Regions from separate parts of the Homo sapiens genome. Here region 1 is linked to region 2. Evidence: fine-mapped expression QTL. Tissue or cell type: whole blood. Region 2 holds a variant in brackets; the other region holds the start of a gene. All regions are shown on one strand. Distances are between the middles of the regions.

Region 1 (8,180 bases), 23 kb before region 2:
AACTCCTGACCTCACGTGATCTGCCCACCTCGGCCTCCCAAAGTGTTGGGACTACAGGCGTGAGCCACTGTGCCCGGCCCAGAAACACTTGCTTTTTGCTCCACCTCTACTTACAGATTAGGTAGATAATGTTTTCCTAATGATTTCATTGATTTTGGTTGCCACTGATACATAGCTCAAAACAGATCCTCCAGTGAAAAAATTTCAGCAAGTTGTGAGAGTCCCCCTCCTTTTCTACTTTATTTGCAGGGTCCAGTAACAATGTTTGTTACCTGCACCTCCTGAGTGAGGTTAGCAGGCTGATTTTGGCCTTGCCTGTCCTTGACTCTCAGGGGAAGAAGGGAGGGAATAAATCTTCCCAGACACTAGTTTCCCTCTCTGGTAAATTGTAAAGGAAACAGCTTTTGGGTTCCTTTAGGGCCAGGATGGAGCCTCCTTCACTGCTGTATCCCCAGAGCGTGGCATAGTGCCTGGCACAAAGTAGGCACCAGATAAATCTTTGCTAAATATTTTGTATTAAACATCCATGTATTTATTATGCATTTGGCTTCCAGTTTAGGTGAGCTGTATCCTGAGAGCTGTTTGTCGGCATCAACATTTTCCTATTTGAATTGAGAACTGCTAATAGGATTGTGCTGGTGGAGCTGAGTTTAAAGACCATATGGTTCTGGCAGAGGCTGTATCAGATGTCCCAAAAAAGGTATTATTTTAACTTCTCCTCTCTAGTTCTGAGCTGTTGCGGGCACTTGGTAAATACTAATGAATGATGAGGCTGGAGCTAGCCTGAGAGGGTGCTGGGAGTCTGGGACGCAGTAAAAGCTTTAACAGTGCTTTCCCCAAGGGCATCTCGACTCTGACCTTCTGGCAAAGAAACTGGTTCTGCCAGATGGTAGGATGGAGGCTTCTTGTTGCCCGAACAGCCCCGGCAGCCCAGTCAACAGTCAGTGTCTGCTCTGAGCAAAAAACCTTTTAGGTGCTGGAGAGCACAGATGCTGCAGGCAACCTGCAGCCTGGCCTCTTGAATCCTAGTACCTGGCTTTCAACTCGAAACCGTCTGAGCCTTCATCTGTACAGTGCGGATGAAAACAGCTCCTACCTCACAACATTATTGTGAGGATTAAATGAAATGATGTAAGAAAAAAAAATTTAGCACAGGGTAGGGGGCAGAGTAAGGATACTCTGTGTGGGTTTATACATTTCCAATGTTATGTGTGCGTTTATGCAGATAAAATTCAGAGTGGCTGAAGAGATGAATTTTTTTTTTTTTTTTTTGAGACAGTGTCTTACTCTCACCCAGGAGTGCAGTGTTGTGATCGCAGCTCACTGCAGCCTCTACTTCCTGGGCTCGGGTGATTCTCCCACCTTAGTCTCTCAGGTAGCTGGGACTACAGGCGTGTGCCACCATGCCCAGCTAATTGTTATTTGTAGAGATGGGGTTTTGCCATGTTGCCCAGGCTGGTCTCAAACTCCCGCGCTCAAGTGATCCTCCTGCCTCGGCCTCCCAAATTGCTGAGATTACAGGTGTGAGCCATGCCCTGCCATGAAAAGACTAACTCTAGACTGCAATGGCTTTGAATAATTTTCTAAACGTTTAGAGTTTAGATTTTATTCCGTATCACAATTTGGAGCCACGGAAGTGTTTTTTTGTTTGTTTTTTGTTTTTTAAAGTGACACCATTAAAAATTCATTAAATACAGCTGGCTATTATCTGGCTAGACGTCTAAGCAAACTTCTTGAATGTTTGGAAAACAGATTACACTTTCACTAAGACACCTGTTGGTTTACCACATACTTCTTATTTGAATATGATTAGCATCAGAAAGTCCCTATGCTCAAAAATACCTCTTTTATCAAATTAGATTAACAAACTGCATCCCGTAAGATGCAGTAACTTTTCTTAAGATCCAATGGCTAGAATATAGGAATTTGGGTTGGATTGGGAAGTGGGGGATAACGGTGGCAAAAAATTGAAGATTAAAAAACGAAATACAGGCCGGGTGTGGTGGCTCACGCCTGTAATCCCAGCACTTTGAGTGGCTGAGACGGGCGGATCACGTGAGGTTAGGAGTTTGAGACCAGCCTGGCCAACATGATGAAATCCTGTCTCTACTAAAAATACAAAAATTAGGAGGGTGTGGTGGCAGGCGCCTGTAATCCCAACTACTCAGGAGGCTGAGGCAGGAGAATCGCTTGAGCCCAGGAGGCGGAGGTTGCAGTGAGCCGAGATTGTGCCACTGCACTCCAGCCTGGGCGACAGAAGGAGACTCCGTCTCAAAAATAACGAATTACATGAGATTTATAAAAAGTTGGTAAATATAAATTCTGTAACGTAAACTTGGGTATATATGTGTATACACGAACAAACTGTGAATGAGACTGATTTTGTACCGTTTGGCCCAGAATTATTCACGCTCATTGAAATTAGTGCTCTTTTAAAAGATTCACATTGGGTTACTTATACATTTACTCCAAAGAAATTGCCATTTTCCCCTTACCTGCATCTGGCTGGCATAATCAACTGAACAATATTCTCTTTCTTCCCCTTTTTCACTTACAAGTGGGGCAGAAAGGGGAGGAGAGCAGTCCTCATTCTTTCAGCAAACTTACTGTGCACTTACAACGCGCGAAGGCGCTGTGCTCAGAGAAACAAAACCTAACCGGTTGTGGCCCTCGAGGGTGTGTGGGTGGGGAGAGCTGCAGCCACAGGAAACGGTAACACGGCGCGTAAAGGGCTCTAATTGAACTTAAGGACCAATGGGGCCACCAAGCAGGAAGTGACTGACTTGCCCGCGTGTGTCTGAACCGCCTTCACAGGGAGGCAACTTTTGAGTAATTGCGGGGCTGGAGGGTGGGGGCACTGGAGGGAACCGCGGGGAGGCGCCGGCTTCGGACGCGGAGTTGTGGGTGTGGGAGAGAGGCGACCCAGAAGCCGAGGCCCGAGGCGGGAGGGGGCTGCGCCCTGGCAAGAGGCTTTCCGGAGTATCTTCCATCTGTCAATACAGGCTACAGGACTCAGTGGCCCTAATTCGAGAACCAAACGTCCCCCGCCGGTCAGTCTTTTCCCCCAGGGCAGTCCCAAGGGCGGCGAGCCCGCGCGCACGAGAGCCGAGCGGTAGGAAGAGCCGAGAGCTAGCGGCCGGGGCCTCGGCGGGCCAGGGGCGCGGAGAGGCCGCCGGAGAAAGGACTAAGACACCGGTGGACCGAGCAGTTACTCCCGGCATGCTCCTCCTCCCCGGGCAGATTTCAAACCCTCTGCAGCCCCACCTCCGCGCCTTCGCCCCCGGCCAGCCCCAGCAACAGGCGGCGGCCCGCTTCTCATTGGCCAGGCCCGCGCTGTCGTGTTTTGATTGGCCGCGGAGCCTCCCGGCCCTGCTTCTGCAGTCGCTGCCGACTCCATTTTGTCGGTAGAGGCAGAAGGAGAAGGTCGGGTTGTAGAAGCTGGGGTGGCCGGCAGCTCGCTCATCGGTGTTCGTGGGCTTTGTCGGTCCGTGCCTCGTCTCTCCCTGGAAAGGGAGGGAGGCTTCGACGTCGAGAGGGAGCCGCTGCCGCGTTAGTTCCGAGCTTGAAGTCAGTAAGTAGCGGCTGCGCTAAGGGCGCGGCCATGTTGGTGGCCGCGCTCCCCATTGTTGGAGGAAGGAGGCGAGCGGAGGCGAGATCCGGGTAACCCGGGCGGGCGCGGGCGGTCACGGGCGGTCGCAGCGCCGCGACCCCTGCGGCTCCGGAGAGATGGGGCCACTGGGAAGCCAAGCCCTTGTGGCGTCGGAGGAGGCGTTTTCCGGGTTCGAGTTGGGAATTACTCACAGTCCGGAAATGGCAATTTATTTAGGGTTGTTTATCTGTTTGGAAAGCTCTCTTACCCCTTTGAAAGGAGGGGGCTTAACTATTTGGTAACTTATTTTCTTGGAACATCAAATTAAAACCAAACCTTGAAAGTTAAGCTGTTCCCTCTAGGGAGACATTTTTATATATTTAAGATGGGCTTAGACTGTTAGGGCTTGTGAGAACTTATTTTAAGACGGGGAGGAGGCGAGAGCGTTCATAACCAAAGGAAACACTGCGTGATGTCTACATGTTCCAAGAGACTGAAAATGGATGTGACATGTGTGGAAAGATTGGAAAATTCTGGTGGGAGTTTAAAAACACGGTCTCTTTAGAAAATCCGCCTGAAGCCAATTTTTTGATATGACTCAACATTTAACACTTCCTTGATTTTATACGCGAGAGAATCTGAAGGTCTTTCCCAGGAAAAAGATAAAGATAAAACTTATTGCGGGACTTGGAGACACTTACAAAAATTCCCCAGGAGTGACTGGATCTCAAGGGTGAAGAGTTTTTTTAAATGGTCGTGGTTATAAGGTCAAAGAAAGCCATCTTACGAGAAATTTTCTACCTTTTAGTTCAGGAAGTAGCCTTCTTTACAGTCAACGATTTTCGTAGTAAATCTAAATGATCACTTTCTCAACGTGTTTTTGAAATAATGAAGTAATCTTTACTTTTCTAGCTAGGACTTCTCTCAAACTTGTGTGCTGAGGAGACTCAGATGTTGGCCTCAGCTCCTAGGCTGAACTCAGCAGATCGGCCCATGAAAACTTCTGTATTGAGACAAAGGAAGGGATCTGTCAGAAAGCAACACTTGTTATCTTGGGCTTGGCAGCAAGGAAGAGGACAGGTAGTGGAGATCCTGCAATCTGAAAAGCAGACTGAAAGGTAATCATCATAATGGGCAAACATTTTATGATGGAACCATCCTAAACCAATTGTTTTTATTTTAAAATAGATTATGTAGATTTGTGGGTAAGCTCATTTTTCTTAGGGAAGGTATAACAATAAAGGTTGTGCATATATTGAAGTCTGAACGGCTTGCTTTTTTGAGTTTAAAGCAGCTGAATAGCCTGTTATTGAGTCTTGTCCAAAATATCTGGAGTTATAAGTTGGAGCCATAGAAGCTTCTTAAAGATTTTGAACTTTTCTTAATGGAATTTTACTCAATATTTGTTTCCATTCACTTGTAGGTGACAAAGAAGCTGAAGATGGGTGGTGGAGAGAGGTATAACATTCCAGCCCCTCAATCTAGAAATGTTAGTAAGAACCAACAACAGCTTAACAGACAGAAGACCAAGGAACAGAATTCCCAGATGAAGATTGTTCATAAGAAAAAAGAAAGAGGACATGGTTATAACTCATCAGCAGCTGCCTGGCAGGCCATGCAAAATGGGGGGAAGAACAAAAATTTTCCAAATAATCAAAGTTGGAATTCTAGCTTATCAGGTCCCAGGTTACTTTTTAAATCTCAAGCTAATCAGAACTATGCTGGTGCCAAATTTAGTGAGCCGCCATCACCAAGTGTTCTTCCCAAACCACCAAGCCACTGGGTCCCTGTTTCCTTTAATCCTTCAGATAAGGAAATAATGACATTTCAACTTAAAACCTTACTTAAAGTACAGGTATAAAATAAGACAAATGTTTAAATTTAGTTATGTTCACGGATAGTTGTCAATTGGTCTGAAACAAATTCGCTAGGGAATCTATTTGTGTAGAACTAATTAATGTAAAAAAAATAGACCATCTCGTGTTGTGTGCACTGTGATATAATGGTAGTATCAGTGCAACTTAAACTAATGATTGTACTTGATATTAAGTGTTCTCAACTGAGTAACTTTTAAGTGGAAACCAAGTTTAGATTTGGGGAGTGGTAAAGGAATCAGCTTTTTCTATTGTTAGGGGAAGACAGTAATTTATCATTCATGGACCAGTAGATTGTTGAAAGTTGGTGAATCGGATTATAAGCTTCTAGCTAACACAAGGATTCAGAATTAGGTAAACATCTGAAGGTTTAGTATATTAGAAACACCCAAACCAGTAATATGCTAACCTGATGCACTGCTGAAAGAAAATGTGAATTTTTCGTAATAATTGCATTTTAGTGAATTGTACAGTGGGTGGAAAGGGCATTTGGAGCTCATTAGAATGAGACATAGTACACCCCAATGGCCCTGTTTATTAAATGTAGTGGATTAAGTGTCTGTCAACAAATACACCAAAACCATTTTTTATAGAAACAGTATTTAATGGTCACTCAATAGCTTTCAAAATACATTTTTGTATTACAGCACTGCACAAGCTATTCTAATAGTGCTCTGGCCTCATCATTCCTGCAAAGCTTGCTTTGGGGAGTTGGATAATGTGAAAATTTTAAGTACCTAGGGGAGAAAGAGCCATGTAAATATCTGTAATAAACTTGTAGCATATGTAAAGTTTTCTTGGCCTTTATCTTACAAAAATGGAGTATTTTAGTATGAATTTGCTGAATGTAAGACCGTGGACTGTTTTTTATAATATGGCCTAATTTTAAAGGTCCAAAATAACTTGTTTTTAAAGTTTGCCCTTGTGCTAAAGTGCCAGTGTATGTATGTTATACTTGATTTGGTTGTAAACTATATTTCAAAGTAAACCCTAGTGTAATAAGTTTTATAACTAAAAAGGTTTAAGCTGCTAAAACTATTTTTAAGAGATGTGAAATGCAGTATGGGACTATCTTTTTTTCCTCCTCTAAGCCCAAAGATTAACTAGAGTCCCTCCAACCTTATAGATTGTTGGCTTTCACAATCTTATAACCTAGGATACAGGTAGTTTCGAGTATGGTGCCAGTGATGTTTTGTTTTTGTTTGGTCAAGGGGTAGGTGCAACCCAATGGACCACTTATGCAAAAGATGTAAACTCTTGCATAATACATTGATAACATGTTTTGCCAACTTTAAATGCTTAAACATAAGCGAAACCAGTAGCAAGTATGTGGGTCAGCTTAAAAATTTTGATTGTTAATGCCCTATTTTCTAATTTGGCACCTCTTGATGCCTAAGCAGGTAAGCAGATGCCTAAGCTGTATTTCTCCAAATAAATCAAGATGAAGTACTGCCCAAGTTAAATATTGATAGCCTAAAGACAAGTTTATGTAGTACTTAATGTACATGATATGAATGTGAAGCATAAAATTAAATAAAATTTTTCCCCATTGGCTTGGTTTTATTTTAAAAATGGTTTTGATTGCTTAATATTCTTTTTAAAAATGTGTTTTACTTGTCACTGACTTGAAGCTCATAATACACTCACAATATTCCAAACTCTTGGATTTCTCAGACTCCAGAACTATGAACCACTACATTTCTGATCATATATATATACGTATATATAAAAAAGGTCACAACTAAAATGTGATAGGACTGTTGGCTTGAAAAGGGGCAACTAGTTTGCTGACTGATACAGAAGATACTAGGATTTGACAGCTATGCAGTTAAGCAACTACTTAGGATTTCTCTCTCCCAGTAGTGTTAATTAAAAAGCAAAAAAAAGGCCACACATGGAAAACATCGCAAAGCTTTTGAAAGTTAATTCCATGATCTAGGTTCATAGAAAAAAAATTATAAGCAAATTTATCAAGTTGACAAGAACCCTTGTGTTTTAAGTATGTTGACAAATGAAAAGTATATAAGGGGACCCCTCAGAAGAAAAGCATCACAACCACACCTTTCTGATACAGATTCCAAATGATAGGGCATCTTAAAACTAGTTTGAGTAATCCTTAAAATGCTACAACTAGTCCCATGGCAAAGCTGTATTATTTTCATGCAAACTAGTTAACAATTTGGAGTTAAGGCAGAACCAGCATTTGGGTGTTCATTTTGTTTCCAGGGTAATTTCTGTGAACAATGCCAAGGATTGCAGAATTGAACTTCATGTATTGGACAAATCTCAGCCTAGGTGTCTGTTAGTTTTTAAGCTATATATTGAATCTAGTGTATATATTGAATACACTAGATTTTTAGTGACTAATCTAGTAATACACTAGATTTTTGGTTTGACTCAAGCAAAATGAGTAAATGGAAGTGGGAGTGGAAGATTACCTAACTTCATACTTTAGGAAAGGTACTGATAAAAGTTTTGGTTAGCCTATATAGAGAATGGTGATAGGAATTTCCCAAGTCGATGCAATTGCGAGAACCAAAAATAGCTGGTACAGAGAACTTACCATGTAAGGCTGCTGAAGTCAGCCATACTGTGAACCTTAGGTAAATGCTGTAATTTCAATTTGTCTTCTTTTCGATGGCAGTTATACTATGATGGAATCCAGGTCCAAAACCTATCCTTAAGCTTAAAATAAATACTAATAAACTATCCTCTTC
Region 2 (8,180 bases):
TAGTTAAGTGTCAAGATGACGTAAAGAGAAAATTTCTCTAGATGCTAACGTAACTATTAGAAATTATGGAAAGAATTATTTATGGAAAGAATTATTGCTTTCTTTCCTTCTTAAATTTAAGACAAAAGCAAATCACAAAGCTAGCAAAAAACCCCCACGAAACACCAAAAACCCAAACCACTTATTTTCTGTGTGTAGATTCATTATTTGTGAAATAAAAAGCCTCATCTTGTAGTAAGAACTCTTCCAAAATAATCTGAAGGCAACTCGAAACAAGGGAATGGTGAGAACAAAGCCTATTTAAGGTACGTCTGAATTAATCTAACTTAGCTGTCAACGTCCTAATGACTGACGCTTCCCAAACCTCCCTTTTCAAAGGGTGACCAGAATTTCCAGGAAATAAGAAAAACTACTCGCAACATTTAACTGGAAAAATCTAACTCCCCAAATCTCAACGCTCCCTTTCTCCAAACACCTCCAACTGATTAAAACCCCCAAATATTAACAACGGCAACAACAACAAAGATAAATGGTAGCAACATTCCTCTCCCTCGATCCCGTTATTTCATCTCACTATTTTTTGGCTGGGGAAAAAAAAAAATCTCTGGGCCAAGGGGGCGTGAACCTCGAAGAATGTGAACTTCAAATCAATGGGGGGCGGCCGTCGGGTCGCGGAAAGGCCGCGGCGGGGGGCTGCTCGCGCCGGCAGGAAGCAGGGAGAAAGGGGCTGCAAACTGCGGAGGGGGAGGGGGACCGAAAAACCCCGCCACGCGGCCCGGCGAAGGCAGAGGCGCCGCCCTCGCTCCCACGCGGCGGCTGAGGCCCGCTGCGCGGCCTAGTTCGGCGCCAAAGCGGGCGCGGGACCCGCCATCTTCACTCCGTCCCCTCCCCCGGCCCAGTGCCGCCACCACCAGGGTCCTCTCCAGGCGCCTGCGGCCTCCCCGCCTAGGCCCGGAGTACCTGCCTTGTACCTACCTGGTGTCGTCGGCCACGTTCCTGACGAACAGAGACGTGTTGGGGGGACGCAGGTAGCGGGACATGGCGGCGGCGTGTCTCGGCCGGGCGCACTAACGGGCTCAGCAAACCGTCCGCGGCTCAGGCGGCCGAGCCTCAGACACACACAGCTAGAGGGCTCTGCTACGGCAACCGACTCTTCTCGCGAGACTTCACTCCCGCCTCCACTTCCCCCTCCTACCTCCGCGCAAAGTCGGGCGCAACGGTTCTTTCCCGCGAGAACACCAGGCGTCCGCCTGCGCATGCGGAGGGCTGGCGCACGCGCCTCAGCGTCGGTGTCATTCGTTGGCTTCTTGCGGTGCCTCTTACCCTCCCCCAAGCCTGTTCTTTCTTTCTTTAGGTCTTCATTTCCCGCCGTTTTCTACCTTACACTCCACTTCATCTCCACCCCCAAATCAGGAAGCAGATGTTTTAGTCTCTAGGCCAAACTTTGCGGTTACTACTAAATGGACAGATTTTTAAACTATTTAGTTCAGAGAGGCTGCCTTAAATTTCCCGGTTGGTCCAAGTTAATGTCCTGCTTTTATTTTGCCTTAAATTTCCCGTTTGGTCCAGGTTATGCCCTGACCTGCGAAAGAAGGATTTACAGCTTGTATTGAGTGTGTAAAGGAAGGAGGTGTGTGCCCTTGCGCAGAGCTGGGCCTGTCTCTCCAGTGTTTTCAGCCTGCCTTTGCCCCTCACCCACACCCTAGCCATCTCCACTTAGTCACGCATTTGGCTCCCAACCTGGGTGGGACCAAACCTCACACTGTAGGTTCATGACTGTGGTCATTTGTAGTGTATTCTTTGTTGCTGACGGCTTCCTGGGTATGCATCGGACCTGTATTGCAGCAGTTCTCAAACTTTTTGGTCTCAGAACGCCTTTATATTCTTGTGTATTACGGAAGATTCCAAAGAGCTTTTTTTAAAAAAAGTGTGGGTTATACCTATTAATAAATAGTTAATGAGAACTTAAAATAGAGGAAACTTCGGCTGGGCTCGGTGGCTCACGCCTGTAATCCCTCCCTGTACTTTGGGAGGCCGAGGCGGGCAGATCACGAGGTCAAGAGTTTGAGACCAGCCTGACCAACACAGTGAAACCCCATCTCTACTAAAAATACAAAAATTAGCCAGGCGTAGTGGCGCGCGCCTGTAATCCCAGCTACTTGGGAGGCTGGGGCAGAAGAATCGCTTGAACTCGGGAGGCAGAGGTTGCAGTGAGCCGAGATTGCACCACTGCATTCCAGCCTGGGCGACAGGGTGAGACTCCGTCTCAAAAAAGAAAAAAAAAAAAAATAGAGAAAACTTTGACACACTCCACTACCCTTTATCACACATCATGTACCCTCTGGAAAACTCCACGTTTGTAAGAGAATGAGCATGAAAATAGCAAATAATCTTTAGTATGGTTTTGATTTTGGAGGCCCTTTTGAGAGCCATTTCCTGCTCGATAAGAGTCAACTTCTGGAGATGAGAGACTTCAGTTGGAATGCCTCCAGCGTGTGGCACAGTGCCAAGCAGGTAGCAGGGACTCAAGTACTGTTAAATTAAATGAACTTTTATTTAATAAAAAGTCATAAAGGCATTATTTTTGTGTCAATCAGCATCTAAGACAATTAAGTGATTCGATACAGGTGATGATAGTTTGTAGCACTCTGTAGCAGAGCTATTCTAAATTTTTGTTTCCCAAGATTTGCATGCTTAATTTATTAAAATGTTGGGCCAGGCAAGGTGGCCCCAAAATCCCAGCATTTTGGGAGGGTGATGTGAAAAACAAAACAAAACAAAAAAAAGTTTGATTCCCTGTTATGTGTCAGACATTGTGCTAGAAGCTTGAAATTCAGTAATGAAAAACATACAGCTTATATTTCTAGGGCGATGGCAATGAGAAAATAAAGTAAATGCAGGTTTGTTATATGAAAGAAACAGTAATGTGATAGGTTTTTTCTTGTTTTTGATTTTTACTTATTTTTATTTTATTTTATTTTTTGAGATGTAGTCTTGCTCTGTTGACCAGGCGTGAATGCAGTGGCTGGATCTTGGCTTACTGCAGCCTCCGCCTCCTGGGTTCAAGCGATTCACCTACGTCAGCCTCCCGAGTAGCTGGGACTACAGGCTCCTGCCACCATGCCTGGCTAATTTTTCTGTTTTCAGTAGAGATGGGTTTTCACCATGTTGGCCAGGCTGGTCTCAAACTCCTGACCTAATTGATCCGCCTGCCTTGGCCTTCCAAAGTGCTGAAATTACAGGTGTGAGCCACTGTGCCCCCGGCCTTGTTTTTAATTTTTAAAACAGGTTTGCCTAGGAAGGCCTTGCTGAGCAAGTGTCTCCCCTGCCCCTCTCAGTTAAATACTTTCAGTGGCAAGAAAACAGAGTCCTGCAAATTACCTTAAGTAATGGAGGAAATTTACACTGTCTGGTGCTACTCCAGCCACTCATGTTTAATAGGGTGAAGATTTAGAATGGAGTCTGATGCATAGAAAGTGCCCTAAAATGTTAACAGGATCACAGGGGCCCAGTACAACATGAAAATGCAAGGCCCTTCATTCAATATTTATTAAGAAATTCAAAACGACAATCGCAGAGTACTAAGCCAAGTGCAGGGTCCTTCTGAGCATGGGGCCCATTCCAGTGCACAAGTAGCACGCTCAAGAAGCTGGCCCTGAATGCCAGCAATTATTATTATTCATAATGCCTTGAGAAATAATACAGGCAACTGAGGGACATATATTTACTCACCAGAATTGCTTTCCGCCTCACACTCAAAGTGTCCCTTTTTTTTTTTTTTTTTTTGAGATGGAGTCTCGCTCTGTCGCCCAGGCTTGAATGTAGTGGTGCAGTCTCAGCTCGCTGCAACCTCTTCCTCCCGGGTTCCAGTGATTCTCCTGCCTCAGCCTCCCCAGTAGCTGGAATTACAGGCATGTGCCACCACGCCCGGCTAATTTTTGTATTTTTAGTAGAGGTGGGGTTTCACCATGTTGGCCAAGCTAGTCTCGAACTCCTGACCTTAAATAATTCACCCACCTCGGCCTTCCAAAGTGCTGGGATTACAGGCGTGAGCCATTGTGCCCAGCCCACAAAGTGCCCTTTGATGTTTTCTGCTGTAGGATCCCAGAACCTAGAAAAAGATGATGCTGGGAAAAGTAGAGAGAGAGAGTGAACTCCTTTCTGCCAGAGATAGGGCTTGAGCTGGGTAATTTACCAAACTACAAATCTGCTGGGGGTTGGGGGACAGGGACAAGGGAAGATACACTAAGGGATTTTGGAAGCGCAACATCGCATCCCGGAAGTGCTGCCCAGTGTGCTAAGAGCACTGTATTTAATTCTGAGTATAACACCAGGGCCGGTAATTTTTCTGAAGACCCAAATGATAAGTTCTCTCTCTCTCTTTCTTTATTTTCCTTCTTTCCCTTTTTTTAGAGATGGAGTCTTGCTCTGTCGCCCAGGCTGGAGTGCAGTGGTAGGATCTCGGCTCACTGCAACCTCTGCCTCCCGGGTTCAAGCGATTCTTCTGCCTCAGCCTCCCAAGTAGCTGGGATTACAGATGCCCGCCACCTCACCTGGCTAAGTTTTTGTATTTTTAGTAGAGATGGGGTTTCACCATGTTGGCCAGGCTGGTCTCAAACTCCTGACCTCATGATCCACACGTCTCAGCCTCCCGAAGTGCTGGCATTACAAGCATGAGCCACCGTGCCCGGCCTCTTTCTTCTTTTCTTTCTTTCCTT[GT/G]TTTTTTTTTTTTTTTTTTTTGAGACAGTCTTGCTCTGTCTGGAGTATAGTGGTGCGATCACAGCTCACTGCAACCTCCACCTCCCAGGCTCAAATGATCCTCCCACCTCAGCCTCCCTAGTAGCTGGGACTACAGGTTCGTGCCACCATGCTTGGCTAATTCTGTAAGGTTTTTGTAGAGACGAGTTTTACTATATTGCTCAGGCTGGTCTCGAACTCCTGGGCTCAAGCAATCATCCTGCGTCAGCCTCCCAAATTGCTGGGATTACAGGTGTGAGCCCCTGCACTTGGCCTCCAAATGTTAATTTCTGAAAATGATCTGTTGGGTGCTGCACCTCTTCTTGAAGACACTATGTTTTATTGAGATTTATGTTAGAAAACCACTTTCCTTGGTACTGTTCTCAGAACTGCACAAATAAAACCCAAATGTAAACAATATAACTGAATTTCCTTGATCCTGAAATAGTTCTTCCTTGATTTGTGGGTAATGGCACACTCATTGAGCCATTCTGCTTGCTGGAAGGAGACTCACAGGGACAAATACTGTGTGTTAAGTCAGTGGAATTCTGAGCCTGACTCCATAGGCAGAACCAAAGCCTTGAGTCAATACAACATTAATTTTATTGGTACAATTGCTTAATTCAGACAACTGCCACAGACAGTGCTTGGTGTTGTGTCTCTGTCTCCATGAGCAAACAATCAATTAGAAGCATGTTCATTTAATTTGTTTGATAAGACATGCCTGGTATTTCCTATAAGCTGCCTCACTCTAGTGAGTGGGCAGCAAGCCAAGTTCTTCAGACTGCGAGAACTCAGTGTTCTCATTTAAACATTCCTTTACTTGTGAGTTGGAAACTTTTGGGCACATACATATGTACACATTTATCAATTTATTAATATCTATGTGCAGGCTCACCTTTCAACCCCTGCTCTGACTAATTTTGCTCTGTGGGAGAATTCATGGCTAATGGACATATTTTTTCACCACATTATTTTTTTAATTTTTATTTTTTTGAGACAGGGTCTCGCTCTGTTGCCCAGCCTGGAATGCAGTGGCAGAGTCATGACTTATTGCAGCCTTGACCTCCCAGGCTCAAGAGATCATCCCACCTCAGCCTCCCAAGTAGCTGAGACTGAGACGCAAGCCACCACGCCCCACTAATTTTTTTTTTCTAATTTTTTGTAGAGATGGAGTCTCACTACATTACCCAGGCCCATCTTGAACTCCTGGGCTCAAGCTGTCCTCCCACCGAGGCCTCCCAAAGTGTTGAGATTACAGGTGTGAGACACTACTTCTGGCTTAATGCCTTAAAATAACACTTTTCCTAGTTATACATGTTAAAACTTTGGAGATGAAAAATATAAAGGAAACAAAAATCACCTGTTATCCTACCACTCAGAACTAATTGCTATTAAAACTTCGATTATTATTATTATTTTGAGAAGGAGTTTTGCTCTTGTCACCCAGACTGGAGTGCAGTGGCGTGATCTCAGTTCCCTGCAAACTCCGCCTCCTGGATTCTCCTCCCTCAGCCTCTTGAGTAGCTGGGATTACAGGCGCCTGCCACCATGCCCAGCTAATTTTTGTACTTTAAATAGAGACGAAGTTTCACCATGTTGGCCCGGCTGGTCTCGAACTCCTGACTTGAAGCGATCTGCCCACCTTGGCCTCCCAAAGTGCTAGGATTACAGGTGTGAGCCACCACGCCCGACCTAGAGTCTGACTCTTAAATGCTACATGACATCTCCCTGGAAAAGTAGATCAGGGAGCTCTGATTTACCAAGGAGTGCGTGTAGGGGCTGAGAAAAGGTAAGAACCTTTACCTTAAGACTTTATAGAATTCTCAAGGCTTACTGTTCTTTGTAGCCTGGTTATCTAGGCTAACATGTAACAATTGGTATCATGTAACAAAGGGCATGGGAAAGAACTGAATAAATACAATCATGGGCTTCATAACAAGGTTTTGGTCAATAATTGGCCCTGTATACCAGTAGTCTCCAACCTTTTTGGCACCAGGGACCAGTTTCTTTTTTTTGTTTGTTTGTTTGTTTTGTAATAGTTTTATAGGTTCATTTATTTATTACATTTAAATCTTTGCTTGTGTGAAATCTCTTTCAATGAAACTTGTGAGATAGGGATTTGAATTTATTTTTTCCAGTGGGCTACCCTATACTACAATACAATTCTGGATAACCTACCATTGCCCCTTTTTATTTTTTAGAGTCAGGATCTCACTCCATCACCCAGGCTGGAGTGCAGTGGTGCGATCATAGTGCACTACACCCTCAAGCTCCTGGGCTCAAGTAATTCTCCTACCTCAGCCTCCCAAGTATTAACAGGTAGGACTGCAGGCATGTGCCATCATGCCTAGCTAATTTTTTAAATTTTTGTAGAGACGGGTTTCAAACTCCTGACCTCAAGCAATTTTCCCACCTTTGCCTCAAAGTGTTGGGATGACAGGCGCGAACTATGACACCCTCCCTTCTCCATTGATTTGAAATGCCACTTTATGTATTTGGGTCATTTCTGGATGCTCTATGCTGTCTTATTCAAATGGATTAGTTATCCTAGCTTTATATTTTATTGGCTTGTTTAGCTATTTCTTTTCTTTTTTTTTTTTTATTGATCATTCTTGGGTGTTTCTCACAGAGGGGGATTTGGCAGGGTCATAGGACAATAGTGGAGGGAAGGTCAGCAGATAAACAAGTGAACAAAGATCTCTGGTTTTCCTAGGCAGAGGACCCTGCGGCCTTCCACAGTGTTTGTGTCCCTGGGTACTTGAGATTAGGGAGTGATGATGACTCTTAACGAGCATGCTGCCTTCAAGCATCTATTTAACAAAGCACATCTTGCACCGCCCTTAATCCATTTAACCCTGAGTGGACACCGCACATGCCCCAGAGAGCACAGGGCTGGGGGCAAGGTCACAGATCAACAGCATCCCAAGGCAGAAGAACCCCTCCCAGTACAGAACAAAATGAAGTCTCCCATGTCTACTTCTTTCTACACAGACACAGTAACAATCTGATTTCTCTATCTTTTCCCCACCTTTCCCCCTTTTCTATTCCACAAAACCGCCATCGTCATCATGGCCCGTTCTCAATGAGCTGTTGGGTACACCTCCCAGACGGGGTGGTGGCCGGGCAGAGGGGCTCCTCACTTCCCAGAAGGGGCGGCCGGGCAGAGGCGCCCCCCACCTCCCTCTCGGACGGGGCGGCTGGCCGGGTGGGGGCTGACCCCCACCTCCCTCCCGGACGGGGCGGCTGGCCGGGTGGGGGCTGAACCCCCACCTCCCTCCCGGAAGGGGCGGCTGGCCGGGCGGGGGCTGAACCCCCACCTGCCTCCCGGACGGGGCGGCTGGCCAGGCGGGGGCTGACCCGCCACCTCCCTACCAGGGACCAGTTTCATGGAAGACAGTTTTTCCATGGATCAAGGATGGGGGATGGTTTCAGGATGATTC

Evidence for each region. PIP is the estimated chance that this variant, and not a neighbour inherited with it, causes the effect.
Region 1: it holds the start of PNRC2, and the variant in region 2 is fine-mapped to the expression of PNRC2 in whole blood (INTERVAL, PIP above 0.99).

The regions. Positions count from the first base shown.
Region 1 is chr1:23,956,428-23,964,607 of GRCh38, forward strand. PNRC2 (proline rich nuclear receptor coactivator 2) reads left to right here and starts at 3,401. Exons shown (of 3, transcript NM_017761.4): 1 at 3,401-3,571; 2 at 4,502-4,707; 3 at 5,013-7,035. The coding sequence starts at 5,031. The coding sequence ends at 5,450. SRSF10 (serine and arginine rich splicing factor 10) reads right to left here. Exons shown (of 6, transcript NM_054016.4): 6 at 7,920-8,180. LOC124903877 (a long non-coding RNA gene) reads right to left here and starts at 1,687. Exons shown (of 4, transcript XR_007065541.1): 1 at 1,675-1,687; 2 at 89-91. RefSeq lists enhancers at 1,631-2,259, 2,438-2,497, 3,398-3,667 and silencers at 2,578-2,677, 3,088-3,197.
Region 2 is chr1:23,979,216-23,987,395 of GRCh38, forward strand. SRSF10 (serine and arginine rich splicing factor 10) reads right to left here and starts at 1,112. Exons shown (of 6, transcript NM_054016.4): 1 at 976-1,112. The coding sequence starts at 1,040. RefSeq lists enhancers at 339-1,329, 567-616, 1,047-1,376, 1,330-2,320, 1,387-1,436. The variant GT/G (reference allele first, on the strand shown) is at 4,719.